Homo sapiens: one gene and its partners. The protein of the gene in region 2 interacts with the protein of the main gene of each other region in a pairwise test. Each region holds a gene or a part of one and is shown on either strand. Other genes may lie near its edges.

Region 1 (7,762 bases), on a different chromosome or scaffold from region 2:
AGAAGATAAAAAAGTTGATCTCATAGCAGTGTAGAGTAGAATGGTGGTTACCAGACGCTTGTGTTGTTAGGGTGGACAGAGGAATGAGAAGATGTTGGTGAAAGAACATATAATTACAGTTGTATAGAAGGAACCTTTTTTAACTGTCCAGAATATATACAAACAGAAAGTGGATAAGTGATTTCCTGGAGCTGGATGTTGTTGGGGGAGGGGACAGTTGGGGGAGCACGAAGAGCTTCCTTTTGAGTAATGAAAATGTTCTAAAGTTGATTGTGGTGATGATTGCATAACTCTGTGAACAAATTAAAAACCACTAGATTGTTCCCTCTAAGTGGGCCAATTGTATAGTCACGTGACTTATATCTCAATAATGCTGTAAAAGAATGAAAGACATAAAGCAAAGGAAAAAGATGGTATCAGACGAAATACTACAAGGGCTTCATACACAAACTTTCCTATTACAAATCTAATTTTCCTACCATAGAGATAGCCATAAATATCCCTATTGTATCAGTAGGTCTAAGAAATAAAACTTACTGTAATCTCATGAAGACCCTTAATAATTCCAAATGAATGATGAGACTGCTTTTCCTTTCTCATATGTGCAAAGATTTCAGATCGATAGTATTGTTGTCCTTGCCTATATGGGCAGATGGGCAGTCTCACCTCCTATTGCTGAGAGAATCAATTAGTACAATAGAGCTAAAGAATAATTTCATAATAGCCACTGAATGGGCAAATATCTGGGCTCAGGTGATGTTGCCAGGACTCCGTAAATCTGCAAATGTTATTGAATTGTACCCTTAAGAGAGTTTTGTGGTTGGTGAATTATAATTCCATGAAGCTCTTTTTAAAATATTTACAATGCACATGGCTTGACATAGAAATTCCACTGTTTTGAATGCACACTACAGAAAATGTTTTTTTACCTGATAAGGGAAGTTGTAAGATTATAAAGAGTTCAATAATTATTATTGTTACTCATATTGTTTAAAGACTAGAATAATAGATAAGTAAGCTTTTATGTTTTACAGCACAAATTACTACAAATATTACAACAGAAGAAGCTACAGCTTCAGAGGAGGGGGGCTTCAAATTGCAGTCTACATCCACTCTACGGATCACAGCAGAGATGTCGGATTAACTCAAGAAAAGAAAGATGGAGAAAGAAAGCCCACTGGGATAAGACACAATTCCCAAACTCATGCACATCTCACCTTGATTGCTCTCAATCCATAATGTGGTTTATCTTCTTCCACAACCACATTAACTTTTTGTCCAACTTTTAGAGGCACGTTGCCAGTCACAACATCACTACTGAAGTAGATCGACTCATCAATCATGCCATAATCACCACAGAAACTTGTGACAACTCCCTGCACAGTTGTCAACTGGGTGTCACCTACAAGATAAAGAAACAAGGTCACATTATTAGCCTCAAATGCAAACACCTACTACAAGTAAGTCTTACACTCACCATCTGCATAACCCTGGGCAGAGAAGTTTTATAACGTCTCTGACCTTGTTTTCATCTGTCAATCCACAACAATCACAATTTCGCCTAATAGGGTTGTTGTAGGTTTTTAAAATATTTTTAAAAATTTATTAAAATTTAAAAATTTTAATTTTTAATTATTTTTTAATTTTTTGAGCAGAGTCTGGCTCTGTCGCCGGGGCTGGAGTGCAGTGGCGCAATCTGGGCTAGCGGCAACCTCTGCCTCCTGGGTTCAGGTGGTTCTCATGTCTCAGCCTCCCCAGTAGCTGGGACTACAGGTGTGTACCGTCACACCCAGCTAATTTTTGAATTGTTAATAGAGACGGGGTTTTGCCATGTTGCCCAGGCTGGTCTCCAGCTCCTGGCCTCAAGTGATCCACCTACCTGGAACTCCCAAAGAGCTGGGATTACAGGTGTGAGCCACCGCGCCCAGCTTACGAATATTAACTGACACATGCACATCAACTGTCGAGAGCTCTGAGTGCCTTGCACAAGAGTGTGTAAATGTTACCTGTTAGCATTTCTACATATGAGTCTTTAAGCTTCTGCTCCTATTATATTCCTTCATCATTATCACCAACATGATGAGTAGCACCTTCTATAGATACTTAACCATCTCAGCAGACAAAGTACTAAAAGATATCTGGAGATTGAAGGCTAGCCCAAAACGGCATCTGAATGGTTTTCTTTATTTCTCCTTCTTCTTCTTCTTCTTTTTTTTTTATTCTGCACAAGCCTAGCTGATCAGCAATACTTAGGGATCAAACCTCAGCAGTCGCCGGCAGGGGTTCTCTGCCTTCCTTTGGGATCAGATAAGTATGAGGCATCAACTTGGCTTCAAATTACATTCCCGTTTGGGATACAAGCCTAAATTAACTCGCAAATTAGGGAGTTTCTCGCCTACTGGAAATATAAATAGGCATGTGCTGTGCGACCACGTGGGGGAAAAGCACAGGCGGTACAGACCCCAAGGTCTTCTCTGTCAACACCTTCCCGCTTTAGATGGACAGGAGAGTTTGGGGGTTGGTTCTCAGGGAATTGTTGAGGACTCGGGTTGCCTCGGGTTGCCTCCCCATGCACGCACAAGATGGAGCCACCGTCACGTGCAGTACCCACCCGAGTTACAACAGCCTCATTCCGGGGGTGAGGAGAACCCCTATTGGGAGGCTTCTGGGGTGGGGGACAAGGGGACACACAGAGGAATACCTTGTGGGAGGCCCTGCTGCTGTGGGCCCTGTCGCTCTGCAGGGTCGGCCGTCCTCCCGTAGAAGGCCAAAGCAAGTCTCAGAAGCCTGAGCATCGTCCCAGTTGTCACCACCGGCCTGGGCACCGCTTGTGGCAGATGAAGCACGAGGCCTCCTCAGTAAGGGAAGCCCTCAGGTCACGGCGTCTCCTCAGGGACTCACTTCCTGCTTCTCCTCAGACACTGTGGCATGGGACCCACCCGTTAGTGAGCCCCCCTCAGGAGAGTCAGGGACACCGCAGCCTCCAAAGGAGCTCCCAGCTTCTCCGCTGACTTCTCCCTCTGAGCATGCGCTCGTCAGGGCCCGCCTCTACCACTGTCCAACCAATGGGCGTGCAGTGGGTGGGCGGGCAGGTTCTTGTGGCTACTAAAAGGCGATGGGTGGGAACATCGTGGCTTCTCCCATCAAGGCTGAGGGAGCCATTAGGATGGCCTGGGGAAAATGGCTTGGGAGCTTGGGTTCTGCATTTACTAAGGAGATACAGGGCTCTTCTCTTGGGTTCCCTGGGAGGATGGGTGCCTGAAACACCGGCTGTGCAACCAAAAATCCTGCTCCTGCCCTTGTATTCGTGGTGCTTAGCATAAGGAGTCACCACTCAGTGGGCGGTCAATAGTTACTCCTCACCAGGGATCAATTTTGTGGAGAGAGGGCATCATGTGGGTAGGCAATGTTTTAGTGATGGCAAGTACGTGTCTTGTGTACTAGGACTGCCATTTTTAGTCCAGTGATAATTTATAATAGAATCCTTTTATGATCATTGCTACCATGTACTCATCGCTTACCTGGTTATGCTTACATTACTCTGATATACACATTACCCTTATTCATTCATTCAGCAAAACTTGTAGGGCACTAACTGTGAACCAGACACTGTTCTGTGTTCCTAAAATTTGTTAATGAATGAAAGAGTCAAGAATCTTCACCCTGTGAGGGTAGATTTTTCACAGGATGACGAAAGGGTGACACTAAACATCACATAATAAAATATATGGTATGTTAGAAGGCAATAAATGCCATGGAAAAATATAGCAGGACAAGGGAGATCCACAGTGCTGGGCATGGGGTATTGGATTGCACTTTACAATAGCATGGTCAGAGTAGCCCTCATTGGAAAGCAATAGTTGAGAAAGATGTTGGAGTTAGCCAGGCAGCTATTTTTGGAGGAGCCGTTCAGACGGAGGGCACAGTTTGTGCAAAGACCATACAGCAAGACTGTGCGTGATGTATTCAAAGAAAAGCAGTGATTAGAGCAGAGGCAGTGAATAGCTAGAAGAGTGGGAAGTATGGTAAGAGAGATAATAGAGGTTCAGGCTGCATGTGGGATAGTGGGGCACTGGAAGTCCTTTGGCTTTTATTGTCCATGACACGTAAAGTCCCTGAAGGATTTGGAGCCTCCAGGGATCACTCCAGGTGCTTGGTTGTGAACAGGCTGGAAGAGGTCAGAGCAGGAAGCAAGGAGAACAGTTTGGATGATTCTGATGCAATCCATGGGCACTGTGGATGAAACCTGTTTGTCTTTCCTCTCCTACTGTGAGAACAGGTAAGAGCATTGCTGAAGATTATCATCTGGTTAACAGGATCGGTTGAGGGCTATCTATGTCTCAAAATGTAACACAACTGTGTTAATTTCCTAGGGAGGCCACAACACATTACTACGACTGCGTGGCTTTAAACAACAGAAATTTATTCTTCTGCAGTTCTGCAGGCTATGAGTCTGAAATCAAGGTTTCCGTGAGGTTGGTTCTTTCTGGCAAGCTCTGAGGGAGAGTTTATTCCAAGATTCCGTAGGTTGCCAGTAGTCATCGGTTGGCTTCCTTCGGTTGTAGATGCATCACTCCAATCTCTTCCTCCTTCATATCATGGTGCTCTTCTCCATCTGTCTGTGTGTCCAATACACCTCTTCTTATAAGGACACCACTCACTGGATTAAGGGTATATGACTAATCCCAATCCTGTAGGACCTCATCTTAACTTGATTTTTTTTTTTTTTTTTTTGCAAAGACCCTATTCAAAATAAAGTCACATTCACAGGTACTGGAGCTCAGAACCTGAGCATATCTCTTTCAGGGCAAAATTCAACCCACAGCAACTGCTCTTGTAAATTTTGATTACTCCAATATTCTATGATTATCAATGAAAAATTAGGACACACAGGTAAGCACACATTTCCTCTTATTTCTCTGAGAAAACACAGGCCATGAAACAGGAGCCCCTCTGTGAAACTCCTGGCACCCATCCTGGCTTTCTCTTCCTTCTCTTTTGTAACAATGGAAGGACATCGCAGCCCCTGGCCAGGGCTGAAACTCCACTGAGCACATGGAACCATTCTCTTGACACATTTTCTCTGAGGATGTTGCTTCTATTGCTGTTGCCTCTCTTCATCCTGCATCAACAATCTTTTTTTTTTTTAATCTTTGCCTGCAAAGGAATAACATACAAACATACACAAGAATCACCCATCTTAAAAACTTCACAAATAACTCCCATCTTAAAAATGTACATAGATAAATAAGCTTCCTTGGCCTCATTTCCCCTTCAGTCCCATTCTTCTGCATCCTGTCCCCCACAGCAAATGCTATTTCAAGAATCACCTCTGCTCACTTCCTGAGCTCCCATTCTCTCCTTATTCCTCTGGCATTAGGCTTTTACCCACATCATGCCCCTAATTTGCTCTTAAGATGACAGGAAACCTCCAGGTCTCCAAATCCAGTGGTCAATATGCTAAGCTCTCATCACTCAACCTCTCAGTGTTTGACGCAGGTGAGGACTCCCCATTTCTTGAAATAAGTTCTTTGGTCTTCTGTGTGACCACTCTCTCCTAGAAAGACTCCTTCTCAGCCTCTTTTGTGAGAAGTTCCTCCTATCAGGATTGCACAAGAGTGCTCCAGGACTCAGACCCTGAATGGCCTCTCTATCCACACACCAGCCCCATGGCATCTAAGTGCACGTACTCCCAATTCCATATGTATACTGAGTTACACACGTGATTATCCCATAGACGACTCAAGGGTAAGGTGTCCAAAATTTCATATGTCCTGAGCTTCCTTCAACCCCTTCACCTCCATAAATCTTCTCCATCTCACACGATGTCAGCTCAGTTCACACAGTGGGTTAACATCATATCCCTGCCATAACCCTTAGTTTTCTCCATTTTCTTTACACACTCCATGCCATCCATCAGCAAAAACTATCAATCCTTTGAAAACATACCTGTAGTCTCACCACCTCTAAAGAATGATTGAAAAAAAACATCACTGGGTCAAATGTTTTAGTTTCCATCATGGCACAGAAGAAAGCAGAAAGAACCGAAGAGACAGCAGCCACTCAGACATATGAAAACATGCCCAAAACCCTTTCATGTGTCCCTGCTGGCACAAATAGAGCTAATAACGGATGCTGCAGCAAGAGATTGGTGCTAAGAAATCGCCTTAGAAAGAGGTAAGAAATAGCCTTCTCTGGCAAACTTCACTAAGTCAGACTCAGCCTCCTCTGCAGGGTTCAAACTCTGTTGGCAGAGAAGCTACAGGTAGATTCCAGCACCAGGAAGACAGGTCCCTGCTGAGAGAATACTGCAGAACAAAGAAGGGGCTCTTCTATACCAACCTGCTGGAAACACTGTGAATGATCTTTGTGGTAGGAGGTGCCTCCAGAGGCCCGGAACACATCAGATAAGAAATGGCTGCTGGACCTGAATGCCAGGGGATGAATTCCACTGGGCCACAGAGCAGCTGTGCGCCCCCTCTTTCCTGTTTGTGTCCCTGACTTGGCTGTTGAATGGACACGACGCTACTGGGACTTCTTTCATAGGATTCTTTGTGAGCATTAAATGACGTGTGTGTCCCAAGGCCCTTAGCCCAGTGCTTGGCATATACAAGGGCTGGACACAAAGTAGATTAACAGCAATTCTGAACAAGGATGCCATGCACCCCATTAAACCTTCTCACATTTTAACTGTCTCCCATGAACAAAATGCACACCTTCACAAGTATCCATGAAGCAATCATTCAGTGCCAGATTCCAGCAAAGATATAACCATGTGATTCGCCTTCTTGGCTTCTAGTGACCTGCATGTTTCACTCTCAAATCAGGGAAACTGACTCCGACTGAAAATATTGAAAACCATCTGTCCGTGGTCACTGCCCTCAAAAACCTCTTATCACAAACACCTGCTTACTTTTCTTTCTGTCACTAACTGCTAGACGGAAATTCTTACTTATTCATATGCTTATCAGAGTATTTATTGTCGGTCTCTTCCCACTTGTATGTCAGCTTCATGACTGCAGAGCTTTTGTTCGTGGTTGCTTTTTCCATCTGCTGGGCCTTCAGCATCTAGAACAGTGCTGGGCACACGGTAGGTTCTCAATAAATACCACAGCAATTAATTGAATCAGAAAAGGGTAACATCCTGAACCATTCCAGCAACCTGAGAAAGGATCTGGTTCTAAGGCAATTCACACCAAATCTGAATACTTTGCTTTCCTTTGTGCATCTATCTAAACAGTACTGGGCCTCATTCAGAATAATGTTACAGCTGGCTGTAAACGTCAGAACTGTGGTTCGGAAGACGTTAGATCCCAGCTCAACTCAGCTGTTTCCTGGCTTTGCAACCTGTCCTCAGGGTCTGACACAGCAGCAACTTGTAAGTAAAATCAGCCAATAAATTGAGTTTTCTTGCAGATCAGTGATCCAGCCTCCCTCGTGCACATGAGTTGCACCATGGAGTAAAATGTTACTCCTTTCATTACAAAAGCTACACTGGAAATAAGTGTTGGACTAGTGTTTAGACAAATATTTCTATAAGAATAGAGTGACAAGGCTTTAAATGACATGTATCAATAAGTATATTATTCATTATGATTTAATGGATAGGGACAATTCCCATCGATGGGAATTTTGGTTTCCTCATGTGATGGGAGTTTTTCCAATTCATATCTTTGTTTTTCAAAACACAATAAGTGTTTGGATTGCTTTTATTTGTTACAGAATGTCAATGTCAGCTCTCCGTTGTCTTAGCTTTGTCGGC
Region 2 (6,935 bases):
TCGTCTGAGTTGTTAATGCCTATTTCCATCTTCTAATGTCTGGGCTCTAGGAAGGCAAGAATGGGTCTATAGCACAGGCCTAATACATAGCAATCGCTCAATAAACACTGATAATTAAATCAGTGAGGCCAGGCGTGGTGGCTCACGCCTGTAATCCCAGCACTTTGGGAGGCTGAGGTGGGTGGATCACTTGAGGTCAGGAGTTCAAGACCAGCCTGGCCAACATGGCAAAACCCCGTCTCTACTAATAATACAAACATTAGCTGGAGGTGGTGGCGTTTGCTTGTAATCCCACCTACTCGGGAGGCTGAGGCACGGGAATCACTTAAACCTGGAAGGTGGAGGTTGCAGCTAGCCAAGAGCACGTCACTGCACTCCAACCTGGGCAACAAAGTGAAACCGTGTCTCAAAAAAAATAATAATAAATAGAATAAATCAGTGAAAGAGCAGCACTCTAGCCTAAAGAGGAAACCAGACCTCTCGAGATGATGTCACAGCTAACAGTCTCAACAAGGCCAGGTGAGAAGTATACTTATCAGGGTATCTCCTCCACTCCCTGTCCATCTTCCCCCTCTTCCCTAAAGCAAGGTGAAGCAGCCCCCATGCCAGGCAATACCGTTTGCCTCCAAAGCTGGGCCTCTCATCATCCGAGTCTCGCTCTGCCCACACCCCGTAGGTGGCTTCTTCCTTGGTCTGCCAGTGGCGCTGTCGGTTGGGGTTGAACTCATTCTGGAGATCCCAGTCAGTGATCTCAAAGTTCTCCCGCTCGTCATCATCATCATCAATGCGGCCTTCCCCATCCCGGTATAAGTGGGACAATGACATGGCCAGTCACTAAAGGAAGAGACAAAAAGAGCACAGGCCGTAAGTCCTGGGGGCAGCAGTCGAAGGATTCCTTGTGAGTCTCTATTCCTTGCTGCTTTCAGAACTTTCTCCAAATTCAAAGTCCATTAAAGTCAGCATTACTATTCAATAAAAAAGATATTAAAAACCTACTTTTAGATAACAATCAGTACTAAAACAGGTGAACAAAATACTACTCCTAACAGTCTATGATTCTTTAAAAGTACATATCTCCTTGTCCTAGTCAATATCATAAATATCACACATATTCACACATACACAAACCACACAAAAATAACTAAGTAGGTTATTTTGTACATTATTACCTTAGAAAATGAGTAGGTATCTTCTTAGATCCCAGATTCTTTTTTCTATTACTGAGGAAAGAATTATATCTGGATCCTTGGTGGTCCTAGGAGAGTGATTTTTTTTAGAATATGCTTTTTGAAATACATTACTTGATGAAACAAAATTTTCAGTTTTCCTCACAAAACATGAATTTCTTCTGATGAACTGAAAGACTGTAGTAATTATGAACACTATTTTAATAGTCAGATGTCCAGAGATTGATATAGAGAATCTACCTCACAGTAGCTGGGTGACCAGATTCAGTTGTCTTTCTTAAATTGGGATTAACTACCATACCAACCTTAGAGAAGGCTTACAAAGCAAATTCAATGAGTTCAAAATAAGTGCTCAAGAAACGATAGCTTCTACTTTAGTCCCATGATTAGGTTAATCATTGTATTAGTCAGGGTTCTCTAGAGCGACATAACTAATGGAATAGACATACATATATAAAGGGGAGCTTATTAACTATTAACTCACACGATCAAAAGGTCCCACAATAGGCTGTCTGCAGGCTGAGGAGCAAGGAGAGCCAGTCAAGTTCCAAAGCTGAAGAACTTGAAGTCCAATGTTCGAGGGCAGGAAGCATCCAGCACAGGAGAAAGATATAGGCTGGGAGGCTAGGCCAGTCTCTCTTTTCACATTTTTCTGCCTGCTTATATTCTTGCCGTGCTGGCAGCTGATTAGATTATGCCCACACAGATTGAATTGAGGGTGGGTCTGCCTTTCCCCACCCACAGACTCAAATGTTAATCTCCTTTGGCAACACCCACATAGTCACACCCAGGATCAATACTTCGTATCCTTCAATCCAATCAAGTTGACACTCAGTATTTACCATCACAATCATCATTATTATTATGGGACTAGGGAGTAAACTTAGCAAAGTGACTGTAAAATCAGGCAGGCTAAAATCGAAGCCTGAGTTCAAATTCAACTCTATCAGATACCCAGTGTATGAGAATTAAATATGCACGTGAAGCGCCAAGCATGGTGCACTACACAATAATACACTCCATAGGTGACAGCAATTGTGATTCTTGTCTTGCTGAAAGCGGCCTTAAGGCACACGGAGTTCACTACTTCCACAGGCAGTGTCAAACTCTGGTCACCTCTGGCAAAACGTTATCTCTGCCTTCTTCTACTCACTGGTGCACCGGTTGGGTGCAACGGGTCCCAACCTCTTCCAGGAGTGTTTAGGACAGAAGGATTTTCAGAAAAGACGGGGAATCTCAAATACATAAAGTTAAATAATACCACTGCCTGCGTGGGCATAGTAAATGGTAATAAGCCCCGAGTAGTCACAAGTTATGAAGCCTTTATCAGTAGATGCTAGGTACATGCTGGTCGCTTGAGACCGATTATCAACTGTCTGCATCAAGACACTTCTGCAAGGTAGGTACCGTTAGTTTTCATGCTTCAGATAAGAAAAAGGAGGTTCAGAGAAGTTAGTAACTTACCCTAGGTTCCACTGCTCATAGGGCTCAAACTCAGGAGTGCTAGAAGTCAGGCCTCGGGCTTGTCTCTCTCTTGCTGTCTAGGTTTGGTGAAGGAAGCTCAGGTTCTTAAATGAATCCAAGCCCTAAATCCCAGTTGACCCCAAGCAGCACCGCCCCTCTCCGTGCCTCGGCAGAGCTGTCTACGAAATGGATTCCCCTCCCCACACCCCAACGGCTTGGACCGAAGCTCGCCTTCCCTGAGCCTTCGTCCCTACTCTCACTGGCGCTGAGTCCCCTTGTGGCCAGCCGTGCTCACCTGTCCGAGGGTCCAGCGTACCAAATTCAGCTTCACCATCCGCGCGAGAAGACGCCGCTCCTACACCAGAACCCGGAAGCACCGTGGCCGGCGCGCCGGAAATGACGTTAGTCGACAGCGGATGTCCTGCTGGCTGCCAGGGCAGCGTGGGACGCTACGGCGGATATGGCTGCAGAGCGGCCGGCTGGGATCTTAGATAGGAGGGGTGGATTTGCAAGGCCTAGAATAGCTGGGGAGTGGTTTCCCCGCGGAATCGGCCTCCCTGCCGCTCCTGCTTTGTACTGTGACGCTCAGCCTGTGATGACTGGTGTGGAATCCGCTGAGCCACCTTGGCCTAAGGAGACTTTACCACTCTGAGATTGTAAATCTGTAAAATAGAGATGTAGGATTAGCCCATACGGTAGTTGTGGTAAATACTGTGAGACAATAAGGGGCCTGGGACACAGCATTCAAATGGGAATAATGAAGGTCAAGACTGTGATTCCTGTATCTTTGACGCTCTCGGTATAAGCACCGTCGTGGGCACAGGGCAGTGGCCTTTATGCAGGAGTTTAAGAGGGAATGAAGGAATGAATGGGCAAACTCTGGAGTTCCCAAGTATTCTCTCCAGGAGCTGTTTCCATTCTTTTCGTTTCCAGCAGGTTGGTAAATTCATTAATTTATTCATTGATCTAATTAAAATATACTAAGTGCCCCTCACCTGTGCTAGGCCAATGTGATACAATGAGCAGAACAGTCATGGGCCCTCCCTGGGAAGCCCTCACTAGCCCAAGGACTCCTTGTAGACATTTAAGTGTCCACAGGCTCTGGAGTTCCAACCTTGAGTGCAATTTAGCAGCTGTGGACCTTGGGCAAGTCATTACATCTAAGCCTGTTTTCTCTTCTGCAAAATGGTTAAGGATTCAATAAGATAAAACTGTAGGCAATGAAAACCGTACCTGGTAACAGTAGGTGCTGAAGAAGTGTTAGCTATTAATTTTTGCTTAATTTTTCTCTCTCTGCTCTATGTGATGAAAAGATTCAAGAGGCAATTGTTGGAATGTAAAAAGAGCACGGGACTTGGAGTCAAATACTTAAGTCTACCATCAAGTAGTTGTTAAGAATTAAACAACAATTTTTGTGTACCCAGTTAAATGTGGGCTGCTTAGGAATGATGACTGTGTCTTAATGATCTCTGTATTCTTAGTGACATGTAGAATCATTGTGCCTGACACATAGTATGTACTCAGGAAAGAAATGGAAAATGTGGTTTTAGCATTGAAGGCCGGGAGAGAGGGTCTAACAGACTACAAGCCCTGCCAGGAGCAGAGTAAGGGAAACAGAGGAGAAAAGTGTTTTTAGTCTGTGCCTGAATGTATTTACATCTGTTTGTAGCCCAAAAGCCAAAAGCATACATACGCTTGGCTTTTCTGTAGCTATGTTTATGGCTTTACAGCAGATTTTATGGAGCTGCAATTACTTTGATCATGAGGGACTGATGCTAGTGGATTTACTTCACCAAATGGAACTCACTTTGTGGCTTCTGAAGAAGGGACCTTTGTGGACTGTCATGGAGTAGTTAAGAGTGCAGGCTCTGATTTAGTGATCAGAGTCTGCATTGTCAGGAATGGGACAAAGTGAAGTTATGTGGCACTTGATAGGATGCCCTGAGAAGATTGCAACATCACCCCTGTGATATTCCTGCTGAAGATCCATAACCTGGATGTAATCATGAGGATATATCAGACAAACCCACGTAAAGAGACATGCTGTATACAAAACTGTAATCTTAGAAAGTGCCAAGGTCATGAAAATCAAAGATAGACCCTGGAACTGTTCCAAACTGGAGGGGACCAAAGAGGCATGACAACTAAACACAACACATGATTCTGAACTGGATCTTTTTGCTTGAAAGGAAGTTACAGGGACAGTTGGAAAAGTTTAAATGGGGCCTACAATGCCGTGGTAATGATGTGTCCGTGTTAATTTCCTGATTTTCATGGTTGCCTGTTAAGTTACATCAGAGGATGTTCTTGTTTGCTGGAAAGTAAATCAATGTATTTGGCAGGGGATAAGGCATCAAATGGTCACCTTAATTTCAAATTATTACAGGGAAAATGTTTCTCTCTGTACTTAATAACTTTTTTGCAATTTCTTAAAATGAAAGCTCTGGAGTAAAAACTTCAAGGATCCAAATCTCGACTTTGCTACTTCTTAGGTATGGGCCCGAGGGCAGGTTGCTTCACCTCTCTACACCTCAATTTTTCCATCTGTAGATTGGGGATAGTGACAGTACTGATCTAAGAGAGTTGTTTAGAGAAAAACAAAAACAGAAAGTGATAATTAGTGCATGTAAAGCTCCTGGCATGGTAAGAGCTTTCTAAAGGATTGTGGCTATATTCTTATTTATTTATTTATTTATTTATTGAGACAGAGTCTCACTCTGTCGCCCAGGCTAGAGTGCAGCAGCACAATCTTCGCTCATTTGCAACCTCTACCTCCCAGATTCAAGTGATTCTCATGCCTCAGCCTCCCGAGTAGCTGTCATTACAGGCGCAGCTGTAGTGATTCTCATGCCTCAGCCTCTCGAGTAGCTGGCGTTACGCCGCCACGCCCAGCTAATTTTTGTTTTTTTATTTGTTTTAATTTTTTTTTCCCCCAGACAGAGTCTCACTGTGTCACCCAGGCTGGAGTGCAGTGGCACGATCTCAGCTCACTGCAACATATGCTTCCTGGGTTCAAGCAATTCTCCTGTCTCAGCCTCCTGAGTAGCTGGGATTACAGGTGTGCGCCACCACGCCTGGCTACTTTTTGTATTTTTATTAGAGATGGGGTTTCAACATGTTGGCCAAGCTGGTTTCGAACTCCTGACCTCGTGATCCACCTGCCTTGGCCTCCCAAAGTGCTGGGATTACAGGCGTGAGCCACTGCGCCAGCCTTCATTTTTAAAAACCCAATGTCATACCCCTTTCAGTCTCAAAAATCCATGGTTTTTCAGGATTTCTGGGATCAAATGCCCAGCCTTTGAAAAACAAGGAAAAGTTTTACAAGGCAACCAGAGCTTTAGGTTCAAGGTCTCATATCTATCGTGATCTCCTGTCATTTCCTAGAGGGGAAAAAAAAAAACAAAAACATTGCTTTGAGATTTGGGAACATCCACACTCATTTCTACATTCCCAATGAGGTGCTCAGACATGTGGCCTTCGCAGAAGGGGTTGCCAAAGCAACAAGGCTCCTTGGGCAGAAGGAGTCTGGCAGGGCCCTCCAGCACTCATGGGTCTATACCTCTCTTTTCGCAGCTGAGGCGGTGGGGGAGCCCCTGGCAGAGTGGAGGTGCCAGCACCACACAGTGAGTTTAAGGACAGGGCCAGGCCTGAAACCCAGGAGCTCAAACTCCCAGGCAGGTGCTTTCTTTGCAAAACCATGCATGGGGTCCCACATCATGATTCCTGTGTGTTCAGGGCCACAGAGCCAAACTCTGCAGACATCATCTCTTTGATTCTTCAGCCTTCTAAGGTAGTTTGTTATAACCCCAGAGTCCACATTCCTAACCTCTTATTTCTACAGCCTATGCCATACAGCACACTTTCCATATTGCCTACAAAAGATTTCGGGAAAAAAATATCGTCACTTAGTTACAACTTTAAATAGGTTGGTACCATAGAAACAATCCATAAGTGGCATTTCAAAGCTGATATATTTAAAGACTAGCACATGTACTTTTTCTAGGACAGTGACATTATACAGTTGCACATGGCTTATTCTTATTTTGCATTTTGTCCCAAAAATATATATGGTGTCCTTAACTTGGCAGAATTGAGAACCCAGATCAGCTGAGATTAGCAATTTGATTTCCCTCTAAATGTTTCTTACAGATGGTTTCTACCCTACTTATCTTTCAAGAATTCGTGAAGACTCTATCCTTATATGGAAAGCTGGAACATGAGGTTCCTTAGGCTCGGGGTGTTTATCTGGAAATTAAATATCCGCAAAACACAGTAAGGGGAGAA
Region 3 (6,878 bases), on a different chromosome or scaffold from region 2:
AGGAGTTCAAGGATGCAGTGAGCTATGACTATACTCCAGCCTGGGTGACATAGTCAGATTCTGTCTCAGGAAAAAAGAAAGAGGCCGGGCACGGTGGCTCACACCTGTAATCCAGCACTTTGCAAGGCTGAGGTGGGTGGATCACTTGAGGTTAGGAATTCAAGACCAGCCTGACCAACATGGTGAAACCCTGTCTCTACTAAAAACACAAAATTAGCCAGGTATGGTGGTGCATGCCTGTAATCCCAGCTACTTGGGAGGCCGAGGACGAAGAATCACTTAAACTTGGGAGGTGGAGGTTGCAGTGAGCCAAGATTGTGCTATTGCACTCCAGCCTGGGCAACAAGAGCAAAACTCCGTTGAGACAGAGGGAGAGAGAGAGAGAGAGAAAGAGAGAGAGAGAAAAGTAGTCATTTTTTAAAAGTCAGATCATGCCCTCATCTGCGCAAAACTCTCCAATGCTTTCCCAACCCAATTAAAAATGTTAGTCCTTTCAGTCACCTACATGTTCTCCTACCATTACTTCCTTTCTCTGTGACCTCATGTTATTCTCCTCTTTGTACTCATTGTGCTCCAGCCACACTAGCCTTCTTGCTATTTCTCAAATGCGCACTCAGGCTTCTGCCCAAGGCCTTTGCACTAATTCTCTTCATTAGAATGTTATTTGCCCAGGCATCTACATGGTTTATTCCCTCCCCTACTTCATATCTCAATTGTCCCCTTCTGGATTATGTCTTTTCTAACAACCTTATTTAAAAGTGAACCTTGCCCCTCACATCCTGGCACTCCCCATTCCCCTTCCCAGTTGTTTTATTCTCCACTGCATTTGTCTTCATTTCATTTACTAAGTGTTTTACATATTTATTTATTATCTCTCCTCAGTAGAATGCAAGCTCTATGACAGTAGGAATTTTTATATATTGTGGTCAATGCTGTATCTTCAATGTCCTGTTATATAAAAGGGACTCAACAGAGATTTGTTGAGTAAACGCGTGGGTGAAATGGAATATGAGAACCAATGACTGAAAAATGGACTGTATGGCTGATCTGGAGGGCAATATATGAAGTTAGTCTGAAAGAGTACCAGATGATGTCAGGCTTTATAAAGGAGTTTTGTCTTTAACAGTAGTAGGACACCACTGAATAGTTTTAACCAAGAGAAAATCTGATCAAATCTGCAGTTTCAAAAAATCATTCTGGCAGATATAATGGAGAACTAATGGAGGAGGGTCATTGTGAATAATTGCTACTGTAGTGGTCTTGAGAGATTATCGCAGTTTGAAGACAGGTGGAGAGAAAAATATATTTGAAGGATATTTTGAGAGATAAGGTTGGCAGAACTTCATAATAATTTGGCCATAGAAGTATGAAGGGCAAGAAGAAATAAAGAATAATGTTTAGCTTTCAAATTTTCACAAGTAGATGGATAGTAGTGTCCTTTGCTGAAATAAGGAACACTGAAAAAGAATTAGATTCATAAGAGATAACTATGCATTTGGTTTTAGGTATGTTGAGTTTGAGATGCTTTTGAGATATCCAAGAAGAAATATCCAAGAGATATTGTGAAAGCTGAGAGGTGAAGCTGAATGGAGCTATTCATTTGAGAGTCATAGGTGTTGGTGAAGCCATGGGTATACATGAGATCATATTTAACTACGGCATAAAAAGGCACCCAGCCTTAAGAAACTACCCGACCCTTTATGGGCTGGATAGAGAATGAAGATCCCAAAAAGGAGATGAAAACGGAATGGTTTTTGTTTTGCTTTTTCAATCACACTCATAAGTTATTCCCTTTTTAAAATTCAGATTCAAACTAGAAGTGTCAGAATGTAACAAGGCTTTTGAAATTAGACCAATTCATCAGAACTATGCATCTATTCAAAAATAGCTCACTTACAGAAACGATGTAAAGAATTCACAATACCTGTCTCTTTGTAGCTTCTAAGTGCATCAATACACAAAAAGCACCCTTCCCGTCCCACCCCACACCGCCAAGTATGCATGATTTGGCTTACTGACGTTTCCTGAAAGTACCCTATCTCTCACTCTGGGCCTTAGCATATGCTGTTCTTTTGGTCTTCATTTCCCCTGGGATGAAGATTTCCCTGACTTTCCAAGATTGGGCTAAGTCATCTCCTTCTAGACATCCCAGTGATATCATGTATTATTGTAACCGTATGTCTAACAACTAGTTCCTCTAACTAGTAAGACTGTCTTTTTCATTGTTGTATACTCAGTGCCTAGCAAGACGAAATTTTTAGAATTTAGTGCAATGCAATTCTGCAATGTAAAGAATTAAAATCTACACCGATTATCAGTCCACTGATGGCCGTTCAAACCTCGACTTTTCTCAAATAATAACTTTTTAAAAGCAAACTAATTTTAAGCAAATGACTGAATCTTTTGAAAAAGTCGACTAAGTTTTGGAGACTTTTACGGTTTTGCTTTCTTTTTCCTGCTGTATCCTTAAAGCCTGCAAGAATTCCTATCTAGGAATACTGGGGATTCTTTTACGAGATGGATTTGACAACTTGCTTTCAAAGCCCTGCCTAGGATTTCATTTGACTGAGCAAATAAAGCCCAGAACATCCCTAAGCAAAGGCAAACAAAGGTGCAAATGCGCGGAGATCCCAAATCCACCCCGCGTGTGTCCACAAAAAAGGGCGGAATCAGAGGCAGCAGCGCGAAGCTCCAGTTTCCACAGCATCCTTCCTTCTTGGCCTTACTTAGGCCGCTCCCTGCGACCCTTGGGATCAGGATCCCAAATCCTTGCCTCACCCACCACACCCCGCGCTTGGGCAGCTGGACTAGTCCTTCCCACGCAAGTCACTGGAAAAAGTCCTTGGACTAAGGGAGGCCACCCTAGATGGCTTTGTCTCCAAAATCCCAGAGGAAATGGAGGAAGGAAAAACCCTGTCAAGGAAAGGTGACAACCCAGCTTACAGTGCTTACCAAGCAGACGCTCTCAGTCAGCCCCTGCCACCGCTAACCGTTGGTTCGCGGGCACCCACAGGCAACGTCGCGGTGGCCCCTGGGGGTTGTAGTTTCTGTCGCAAACAAAACGCGCCGGCAGCATCGAAACTACATTCCCCACAAGTCAACGCGAAGACGTCCTACCGACTTAAATCTGGGGTTTGGAGTAATGAAGAGGCCGTCACTACTTTTAGGGTGATCTTAAATGTAGACTCAATTTCTTCCAGGAGTCCCTTCGCGCCCTCTTTCTTTGTCGTGCTTGTTTTATGTGTGACGAAGTCTCAGTGTACTTCTACGTCTTACTTTTTCCTTCCCCTTCTCCAGGACAGAGTCCAAACGTCCGGGAACGGAAACCGCCTCAGGGCGCAAGCTTAGCGCCTCCGGGGGCGCTTGGCCCAGTTCGCAGTCACGCATGCGTAGCAGCCGGCAGTGGCTGGCAGCCGCGCGCGGCGCACTTGGGGTCCGGAGGGTAGCCTGCCAGAGGGCGGGGCTTTTTCCTAAGGCTTTGCCTCGGCGGGTCGCGTCTGCCTGGGCGGGGAAGAAGGCGCTGGGGCCGGGGCGGCTCCCGGTTTGTGCCGGGCGGAGAAAGGGGAGGGGCTGGGGGTGAGGACCCCGTCTCCACTCCCTGCTCCCGCCCTCTGGGCTGATCCCCACCGATGGGGCTGGGCGAAGGGCGGGCTTTGCGCCTCGGGCCCCGCCGCCCCGCCAGCTCCGCGGCCCAGCCTGGCGCTCGAGGATTGCCAGGGCCGCCCTGTGCCCTCTGGCTCGGCGGTGGTGGGCGAGGGCTCAGGGATCGGAGAAGTAGCGTCTTCCCGGGGGTGCCGAATTGGCGGGGCTGGGGGACGCTTTTTTTCACCGCCGCCCGCCGAGACTACGGCTGCCCGAGACTGCCGCCCTCCGACAGCGCCCAAGCCTCCGGCCGCTGCGGCCAGTGGGCCAGGGTTCGGCGAGCCTTCCCTGCCGGCGCCGGCCGGCTGCTGAGGCGCTGGGAGGAGCTGCGGAGGGCGGGGACTGGTGTCGGAGAAGGGGCGGGGTGGGAACGCCGGAGAGAACCCGGTGGCTGCACAGACAAAAAAGCCCCGAATGGCTGGAGGGCGTTCAGCTGTTAACAGCCTTTTGGGGCAGAGCACGGATTTGACAGCTCCACAACGTGAGGATATCCACTGACCCCGCGAGACGGAGGAGAACGCTTCCCCGAAATTCTCTGCCCACCAAAGCCAGCGCTGCAAGGTTGCAACTTTCAAACTTTGTTTTTCCAGAAAGAAGACTGCCCTTTCGTGTACAAGGAGAGGGTGAGAGGGTGACCTAGCTTGTAGATCGGCTGAAGGCACCAGTGGTTCCAAATGTCACCCAGATGTGTGTTTTCATGACGATTTGATTTCTCTGATTTTATTTTTACATTTTTCATTTTAAAAATACAAAGCAATTTTTTTGGGGCATGCTGAAAGGTAACTGAAGACCGCAAAGGAAAAACTATTGTCATGGCTGAAGGAGAGAATGAAGTGAGATGGGATGGACTCTGCAGCAGAGATTCAACTACTAGGGAGACAGCATTGGAAAACATTAGGCAAACCATTTTGAGGAAAACCGAGTATCTTCGTTCGGTGAAAGAAACACCTCATCGTCCATCAGACGGGCTTTCAAATACCGAGTCTTCGGATGGGTTGAATAAGCTACTTGCTCATCTGCTTATGCTTTCTAAGAGGTGTCCCTTCAAAGATGTGAGAGAGAAAAGTGAGTTTATTCTGAAGAGCATCCAGGTAAGGAAGAGCATTTTAAATACAACTATGTCTCTACTACAGTTAAATTTTACTTGCCGTTATTCACGTTGTGTTTGTTTCTATTAGGTTGTTATGTAAACTTTTATTATGAGTTTACATCTTTAGAGTGTTCTGTAAGTAAACAAGTAGTGTTTTTCTAGAGTTTTAGGCAGAAACTGCTTTGCTCCTGGAAGAATATATGAAAACTACAGTTAATTCCAAGTAAATACTTGTTTTTCCTTATATTTCTTTTTACATGTTGTTGGAAAATGTAGCCAGTGTTTTTTTTTCACATTGTCACAGTGTTCTGAGTGTAAAGGCTCACATTTAAAAGCCTCTAAAATGATAAAGGATATTAAATGTTTCCTAGTCAGCCTGTTCAAGATAATTGGTGGAACAATTTTCTCTTATTTTTAAAAACAAAACAAACCAGGATGTGTTCTCTAAATGCAACCTCTCTTTTTTCAAGAAGAGAATTATATAAAATAATAAAAACCTATCTTAAAAGAAGCTAATATCTTCATGTTGAAAAGGTGGACCCAGGTGGGGTATTTGATAGAAACACTTTTATGGCAAATTGCTCAACTAGCTTTCTCTGTGTTTGCCTGAATTGTTTCTTTTTCACATGTGTAGCTATTTAAGATACGAGTGCAGCAGGTTAAAAATATTATAGTTTTTCCTCCATTTCGTTCATAATTTATCCTGTTTTATTACAAGGTGTCTTAGAATACTTTTTTTTAAGTTTTTAGATATTGACAATATTCAGCAACACCTTATATATGCTTGTCAATCTTTACATTTCTCAATCCACGTGTGTTGTCCAAAGTCCTGTATGAGAGATTTTTAAAATTTAAAATGTACTTGGGTAACTATGTAAGTTAAAAGTGACAGTTTTTATATACTGGCTTGAATTTAGTTTAAAGCAACAGAAAAATAATATCCACAAAATGAAGACTCTATTTAAGATCTTGGGATATTTCTTCTCACTAACACTTTGGAAACAATTGTTACAATTCAGAGTTACCCGAGAGGAATTAATATACTAGGTAACTGAAGTTTACCCTTTGAAACACAAAAAGTTATTTCTCTATCTTCTAGACTGTAGTGACTGTAACAACCATTTTTGTCCATAATGGGGTCATCATTATGCATATCAACTATTGTTGTGCAGCAAAGGGTGGAGGACTGACTATATGATCCATTAGTTTTTGTATTTTTGTGTGTAATTTTTATAGTTTTTCTGTTCTTTCCTTTGCCGTCAGGATACTTGACTTTGGTCTCTTCCTGATCTTTCATTTTGCTGCTTAATTCATATTAGAATGGGAAACCAGATAACCAATCGTGTTAAGAGTTATATTGAAAATAAAAGTAAGCAGGCTCTGGGGAGCATAGTATCAAAGGATTTCAATATAATGATAAATAAGTGGGTACTGGAGTCAGAGTTGGGCTCAAATTCCACTCCTTTACTAATGTCCTTGCCTGTAACCTTGGGCAAATTCCTTGACCTTTCTTAGCTTGGATTTCCACATCTGTAAAATGGGAATAACAACACAGAGCTCTTGTGGGAATTAAATCAGATGTAAAGTACTCTGGTATATATAGTAGATGCTCCTCTCCCTTTCATAAGTGAAATACATAGACTATGCAATATATATTTCAAGACTCTTTCATCCTGCAAAAGGACTCAGGAATTTCCTGGGAAGGTTCCCTATAGACTTATACTCTTTTTTTCCATCTCTGCATCTATTGTACAATTATAAAAGGCAATTTACTTATATTGTGTTATAAGCACATGCTTTTGTGTCTGTCTCCCATAGGAAGGCTATGAGTTCTTAAGAGTACTGGCTGGGACCTGGAAGCTACTAAATAAATATCCAGTGGATGAACAAATTTATACTTTCTTTCTGTTTTTCATCAGTAGTCTGAATAGATGAAGTTTTCAGTTTAGGGAGTTTCCACCCCAGCATCATTCATTTATGCTTGCAGTTATGCAACAAATGTTTATTGAACTCCTGCTGAATGTCATTCTGAGAACTGAGGACCAGTGGTAACAATTTTGACATCATACCAAAGGGAAACAGACCATAAAGAAGTAAACAAATATAAAATTTAATTTTAGATAGTAAGGGAAAGCTTTCCTGAGGC
Region 4 (7,026 bases), on a different chromosome or scaffold from region 2:
AATGTTTTCCATATCTGTGATATTACTTATTTCATATTTTTCTTAAAACTAACCAATTTTAACTATTAAACAAAGATACTTAAAAGAGAAACTTTACATCACAATTGAAAATGGAAAATCAGTATCAATTCCATAAACAAAAGCTAACCATAAAAACATCAGATGCCATTACCTACTGAGGGTTATGAGCCTGAGGCCTGCTCTCTTTCTTTTCTTTTCTTTCTTTTTTTTTGAGACACGGTCTCATTCTGTTGCCCAGGCTAAAGTGCAGAGGCACGATCATGGCTCACTGTAGCCCTGAACTGCTAGGCCCAAGTGATCCTCCCACCTCAGCCTCCCGAGTACCTGGGACCACAGGCATGTGCCACCACACCTGGCTAATTTAAAATTTCTTTTTGTAGAGACAGAGGTCTCACTATGTTGTCCAGACTGGTCTTGAACTCCTGGGCTGAAGTGATCTCCCACGTTGGCCTCCCAAAGTGCTGCGATTATAGGCATGAGGCACCACACCCCACCCCTGCTCTCTCTTTGTTGAAAAGATAGACTAGTGAGTGCTAGAGAATTAGGGACAAAATTCCTACAGGAGAGAGGGTAAACATAGGCACATCCACACAAAAGAATACGATGCAGCTATAAAACAGAATGTAGAGGTACTCTGTGAACTGACATGCTATTGTCAGGCACACATTATGTGAAAAAAAGCAAGGTTCTAAATAGACTATCTCAGCTTTTAGTCATTGTGGTAGCCCCCAAAAGCTATCCATGTCCTAATTCCTGGAAACTGTGACTATTACTTTATTTATTTATTTATTTATTTAATTTATTTTTTTGAGATGGAGTCTCGCTCTGTCACCCAGGCTGGAGTGCAGCGGCGCAATCTCGGCTCACTGCAAGCTCCGCCTGCCAGGTTCACACCATTCTCCTGCCTCAGCCTCCCGAGTAGCTGGGACTACAGGCGCCCGCCACCACGTCCGGCTAATTTTTTTGTATATTTATTTATTTATTTATTTAGAGACAGGGTTTTGCTCTGTCACCCAGGTTGGAGTGCTGTGGTGTGATCTCGGCTCCCTGCAGCATCAAACTCCCCAAGCTCAGGCAATCCTCCCACGTCAGCCTCCCAAGTAGCTGGGACTACAGGCATGTGCCACATGCCCAGCTAATTTTTATATTTCTTGTAGAGATGGGGTTTTGCCTTGTTGCCCAGGCTGGTCTCAAACTCCTGGGCTCAAGCAATCCTCCCACCTCGGCCTCCCAATGTGCTGAAATTACAGGCGTGAACCACTGTGCCAGGCCTGAATATTACCTTATATGACAAAAGATGTGATTAAGTTAAGGATCTTGAGATGGGGAGATTATCCTGGGTCATCCGGGTTGGCCCTAAATGCCACTACAAGTATCCTTTTAATAAGAGGGAGGAGAATATATTACCACAGAAAAGAAGAGAGGGCAATGCAACCATGGAGGCAGAGACTGGAGAGATGTGGCCACAAGCCAAGCACTGCCTGCAGCCACCAGGAACCGGAACAGGCAAAGAAGAGATTCTCCCCCAGAACCTCCAGAGGAGTACAGCCCTGCCGACACCTTGGTTTTGGCCCAGGAAAGCCGATTTGGACTCCTGGCCTCTAGAACTGTTAGAAAATAATTTGTCTTGTTTTAAGCCACCAAGTTTGTTAGAGCAGCATGGGAAACTAATAGTGTAATAAAGGGAGAAATAAGAATGTCTTTCACATTTGCTGGTATTTATATAAAGAAACTATGGTAATGTGGTTTGGCTCTGTGTCCCCACCCAAATCTCATCTTGAACTGTAATCCCCATGTGTCAAGGGAGGGACATGATGGGAGGTGACTGGATCATGGGGGATGTTTCCCCCATGCTGTTCCCATGATAGTGAGTGAGTTCTCATGAGATCTGATGGTTTAAAAGTGGCAGTTCCCCTCTTGCTCTCTCTCTCTCCTGCCCCCATGTAAGATGTTTGCTTTCCCTTCGCCTTGCACCATGATTGTAAGTTTCCTGAGGCCTCCCCAGCCATTCAGAATTGTAAGTCCATTAAACCTCTTTCCTTTATGAATTACTCAGTCTCAGGTAGTTGTTTATAGTAGTGTGAGAACAGACTAAGACACATAGGAAGGACACACAAGAAACTAAAGAGGCTACCAGTGGGGAGGAGGTGGATGGGATGAACGGAGATGGGGAGAGCCAAGACTTCTCAGACAAAGGAAGATGGAGGTGGAGGGGGCAGGTAGCTGGTGAAAGAGCACAGAAAGGCTGACTCAGAGAACAGCAGTGGCACCCAGAGAGCAGAACCCCAGGGCACACAGCCAGGGAGTCTGGCTGCTGCAGTCAGCCTCCCTCTAAGATCCCAATGTTCTCAGCAGCCCCATTCTTCCGGGACACAAACACAAGATCTATTGCAACAGCATTCCCCATTCTTATTGCCACCATCTCCCAGGCAGAATCTGCCAATGGACTACTCGTATCTACTCTCTGCCTTTTCCTTACTAACAGAACTCCAACTTTCTTTGAGGCCACAATGTGTCCTGCTAAAAGACTATGTTTCCCAGGATCCTTTGCAGCTGGCTGGGGCGTGTGACTACCTTCTGGCCAAGGAATGCTTTAGTGTTGTGTGGGATCTCTGGGATGGTGCCTTAAATGGAAGGGACGATCAACAGGATTCAGCAGCTCAAAGAGCAAAGGAAAAAAGTCAATATCCTAAGAAAGGTCTCCTTAATTGGTCTTACTCTCTCTTGTTCCTCTGGATAGCAGCATTTGTAATGGGCAATGTTGCTTTCTAAAAAACTACCTTAAGCAGACAACAAGTGTTCCCCTTTGTATGCAGTCAAATGCTCTACCACTGAGCTATACCCCCATGTTCCCCTTTGTATAAACTATTTTAGTCTTGCTGGTCATCTTGTCCAGAGCATGGGGTGGCATATACTGCTAGAAGTCCTTTTTTTCTTTCTTACTAATGTAACTCAAAATTTCTTCAGGCTGATTAAATGCCCAGTTTTTAAAGACCACAATTCCCAGCCTCTTTTCCAGTTGGGGTGACCAATGATGAAAAGGTGCCATTGAACGGGGTTTCTGGGAAGGCCTTATAAAGGGAGATGATTCAGTTTAGACCTGAACGCTTTTTGCTCTTCCTCCCTTCCCTTTTCCTCCTATAAGGAATGGTGGCAGTGGTGGCTGGGGCACTGGCAGCCACCTTGGATGGAAGCCACAGGCCAAGGATGGAAGCCACAGGCTAAGGATGACAGAGCAGAAAGAGGCCGGGCATGGTGGCTCACACCTGTAATCCCAGCACTTTGGTGGCCAAGGTGGGAGGATCATTTAAGGCCAGGTGTTTGAGACTAGCCTGGCCAACATGGCAAAACCCTGTCTCTACTAAAAATACAAAAATTAGCTGGGTATGGTGACATGCGCCTGTAATTCTATAATTCCAGCTACTTGGGTGGCTGAGGCATGAGAATCCCTAGAACCCAGGAGGTGGAAGTTGCAGTGAGCTGAGACTGTGCCACTGCATTCCAGCTTGGGTGACAGAATGAGACTTTCAAAAAAAAAAAAAAAGAAAGAAAAATAGTGATAGGACCCCTCATTTCTCATGACTGTGGAGCTACTATCCCAGTGCTGGTTTGCCAACCTCTGTACTTTCTGTATATGAGGGAAAATAAACCCTGTAATAGAATGTCTGCTGTCTCTCTCCACATGAGGATTACACATGCCCACTCCATTGACTTGAGGCTTGCTATATACTTGCTCCAGCCAAAAGAATGCCAGTGAAAGTGACACAGGCCACTTCTAAATATGAAATTGACCAAGAGCCACTGGGTGATTCACTCCACTTTCTTTTTTCCTCCTCCTGCAAGACCAGCAATACTCCAAATAGGGATAGTTTATTCAGCCTGAGACCCCAATTAAGATACTGTAGAGTAGGACCACAAATGACCTGCAAAGGACATAGTGTGAGCAAGAAATACACCTTTGGGCCACGTGTGGTGATTCATGCCTGTAATCCCAGCACTTTGGGAGGCTAAAGCAGGAGGACTGATTGAGCCCAGGAGTTCCAGCCTGGGCAACATAGTGGGACTTCATTTCTTTTTTTTTTTTTTTAGACGAAGTTTCACCCTTGTTGCCTAGGCTGGAGTGCAGTGGCGCGATCTTGGCTGACTGCAACCTCCGCCTCCCAGGTTCAAGCGATTCTCCCATCTCAGCCTCCTGAGTAGCTGGGATTACAGGCGTGTGCCACCACGCCTGGCAATTTTTGTATTTTTAGTAGAAATGGGGCTTCACCATGTTGGCCAGGCTGGTCTCAAACTCCTGACCTCAGGTGATCCACTTGCCTCAACCTTCCAAAGTGCTGGGATTACAGGTGTGAGCCACCGCGCCCAGCCCAATGGGACTTCATTTCTACAAAAATTAGAAAAATTTGCCTGACAAGGTGGTGTCTGCCTATAGTCGCAGCTACTCAGGAGGTTGAGGCGGGAGGACTGCTTGAGCCCAGGAGTTTGAGGCTGCAGTGAACCATGATGGTGCTGCACTCTAGCCCAGGTGATAAAGACCCCTTCTTTAAAAAAAAAAAAAAACAAAAAAACAAAAAACACCTTTGTTGTAGTAAGCCACTGAGATTTGAGAAGTTTGTTTGTGCAGCATAACTTAACCACACTGATTCCTATAGACCCCATAATTTGTTTAAGCAACTCTTATTGCAGGACTTTGTTACTACCAAGCAGATACAATTCTAAGTGATAGGTCCCCCATAAGAGATGACCCCATTGCCACTGTCCCTGAAAGGGCCTAAGACAGAGCTAATGAAAGCTAGCCAGGCATGGTGGCACATGCCTGTAGTCCCAGCTACTCAGGAGGCTGAGATGGAGCTGGTCCGAGTGTTGTGGGTTATTGTTAAGCTGATTTAACATTGTCTCCCCACACAACCATGCTTGACTAGCATAAAAATAAAAAAGAAAAATGAAAAAAACAAAAAAAAAGGAGGCTGAGATGGGAGGACTGCTTGAGCCTGGGAGGCTGAAGCTGCATTGAGCCATGATCGCACCACAGTACTCCAGCCTGGGTGACAAAGCAAGATCATGTTTCAAAAAAAAAAAAGAGAGAGTGAACTAATGAGTGTTCCCATTGGCTGCCAAGCAGGATTTCAAGTTATTTCCTGGCAGCCACTTCCCTCAATGTGTCTCATCTTATCTCTCACCTGGCATCCATGCCCTCTCCTAAGCCTCTTTTGGAAACTGCTTCTCATCTAACTCTTAACTAAGTGGCTTCTGCAAGACTGACTCAGGGGTAGGCCCTGAGGTGGAAATGGGCTAGTCACTAGCGGGTGCCAATGAAGACATGAAGTGATTTTTATACAGTCATCTGGCTGCTATATACAGTCGTCATCATTTTCCTCCTTATTATACATACAAAGCACTTAGAACAGTGCCTGGCATAAGGTAAATACTAAGTAACTATTGTTGTTGTTATGAGAGAGGTAAGAGTGGAAACGGGCCAGGCACGGTTGCTCACGCCTGTAATCCCAGTACTTTGGGAGGCCAAGGTGGGTGGATCACCTGTGGTCAGGAGTTCAAGACCCACCTGGCCAACATGGTGAAACTCCATCTCTACTAAAAATACAAAGAATTGGCTGGGTGTGGTGGTGTGCACCTGTGGTCCCAGCTACTCAGGAGGCTGAGGTAGGAGAATCACTTGAACCTGGGAGGCAGAGGTTGCAGTGAGCCGAGATCATACCACTGCACTCCAGCCTGGGCGGCAGAGCAAGACCCTGTCTCAAAAAAAAAAAAAAAAAAAAGATGATGGCAGCCTGGACTACATGATGACAGTGGATGTGATGAGAAGTAGTCTGGGAATGTGTTTTCCTTATTTCTTATTTATTTATTTTGAGACAAGGTCTCACACGGTTGCCCAGGCTAGAGTACAGTGGCACAATCACAGCTCACTGCAGCCTCGGCTCCTGGGATCCAGTGATTCTCTCACCTCACTGTCTCATGTAGCTGGAACTACAGGTGTGTACCACCACGTCCAGCTAATTTTTTACATTTTGTAGAGATGGGGTTTTGCCACGTTGCCCAGGCTGGTCTCAAATTGCTGGGCTCAAGCGATCCTCCTGCCTCGACTTCCCAAAGTGCTGGGATTACAGGTGTGAGCCACCACGCCCAGCCTATCTTTCCTTATTTGTTAATGATTTATTTAGGAATTTCTCATTTGTGTTTATAACTGTCTTGTCAAGGTGTTAGAGATTTTGTTGTGGTTGTTGCAGGATGGAGAAATGTCTTGAGGGTAGAGCCAAAGGGTGGGTTAATGGACTAGCGGTGAATGAAAAGGAAGGATCATGGGTAACTCCCAGGTCACGTACTCAGTTCCTCAATGTTTGATCCCTCACCTATCCATGAGCTCTGTCATGGCAGAAACAAGATCTGTCAGGATTCTTTGTGTCCAGCAGGGGCTTACTTGCTTCTCCAAGAAATACTCAAAAAGTTGCTGAATTAATCAATGTTGCCAGAGTCATACACAGGCTTAAAGTCCCTTTGGCCCTACACCAGGGTCCCTCAAAGGATCCGTGACACATGGACTGCTGGCTTTCCTGGAGAGCCCATCTGAAAGGCATTCACCAAATCCACCCAACGAATCTTTACTAAGAACCTACTATGTGCCAGGCAATATTCTAGAGGTTGGAGACACAAACAGGAGGAAAGAAGAAAGACAAAGAAAGACAAAACCTCTGGCTTGATTGAACTGATATTCTAGTGGGGGAGATAATGAATGAATACATCGAAAACGCAATATGCAGACAGTGATGTGTTAAAGAGAAAAATAAAGCAGGAGACAGAGAGAATCGTGTGTGTGTTTGGGTGTCAGTTACAGTTTTCCATAGGGTGGTAGTCATAAAGGCAAGAACTTTGAAATCAGAGGGAATCACACAGGCAAAGTCCCCAGGGCAGCAACATGCCTGCCACACTACAGGAACATGAAGTAGGCCAGTGTCACTGGTGTGAAGGGCAGGAGGAAAGAGATGAGGT

What was found.
Region 1: the proteins of TFIP11 (region 2) and CT55 interact in binary tests that used the Homo sapiens proteins (3 or more experiments, as listed by UniProt).
Region 3: the proteins of TFIP11 (region 2) and CEP57L1 interact in binary tests that used the Homo sapiens proteins (3 or more experiments, as listed by UniProt).
Region 4: the proteins of TFIP11 (region 2) and THAP8 interact in binary tests that used the Homo sapiens proteins (3 or more experiments, as listed by UniProt).

The regions. Positions count from the first base shown.
Region 1 is NC_000023.11:135,168,377-135,176,138, forward strand, and holds the start of CT55 (cancer/testis antigen 55), read right to left. Parts: upstream 3,023-7,762; 5' UTR 2,796-3,022; coding exon 2,702-2,795; intron 1,403-2,701; coding exon 1,218-1,402; intron 1-1,217. UniProt on the Homo sapiens protein: Plays a role in spermatogenesis, possibly acting in the regulation of the autophagy pathway.
Region 2 is NC_000022.11:26,509,448-26,516,382, forward strand, and holds the start of TFIP11 (tuftelin-interacting protein 11), read right to left. Parts: upstream 3,027-6,935; 5' UTR 2,986-3,026; coding exon of another isoform or gene 2,947-2,985; intron 2,729-2,946; coding exon of another isoform or gene 2,652-2,728; intron 1,871-2,651; exon of another isoform or gene 1,672-1,870; intron 1,256-1,671; 5' UTR 1,170-1,255; intron 835-1,169; 5' UTR 826-834; coding exon 617-825; intron 1-616. UniProt on the Homo sapiens protein: Involved in pre-mRNA splicing, specifically in spliceosome disassembly during late-stage splicing events. Intron turnover seems to proceed through reactions in two lariat-intron associated complexes termed Intron Large (IL) and Intron Small (IS).
Region 3 is NC_000006.12:109,091,650-109,098,527, reverse strand, and holds the start of CEP57L1 (centrosomal protein CEP57L1), read right to left. Parts: upstream 3,022-6,878; 5' UTR 2,953-3,021; intron 1-2,952. Other genes in the region: SESN1 (sestrin-1), read left to right, coding at 4,455-4,733. UniProt on the Homo sapiens protein: Centrosomal protein which may be required for microtubule attachment to centrosomes.
Region 4 is NC_000019.10:36,044,276-36,051,301, forward strand, and holds part of THAP8 (THAP domain-containing protein 8), read right to left. Parts: intron 6,843-7,026; exon of another isoform or gene 6,550-6,842; intron 4,945-6,549; exon of another isoform or gene 4,871-4,944; intron 2,073-4,870; exon of another isoform or gene 1,434-2,072; intron 1-1,433.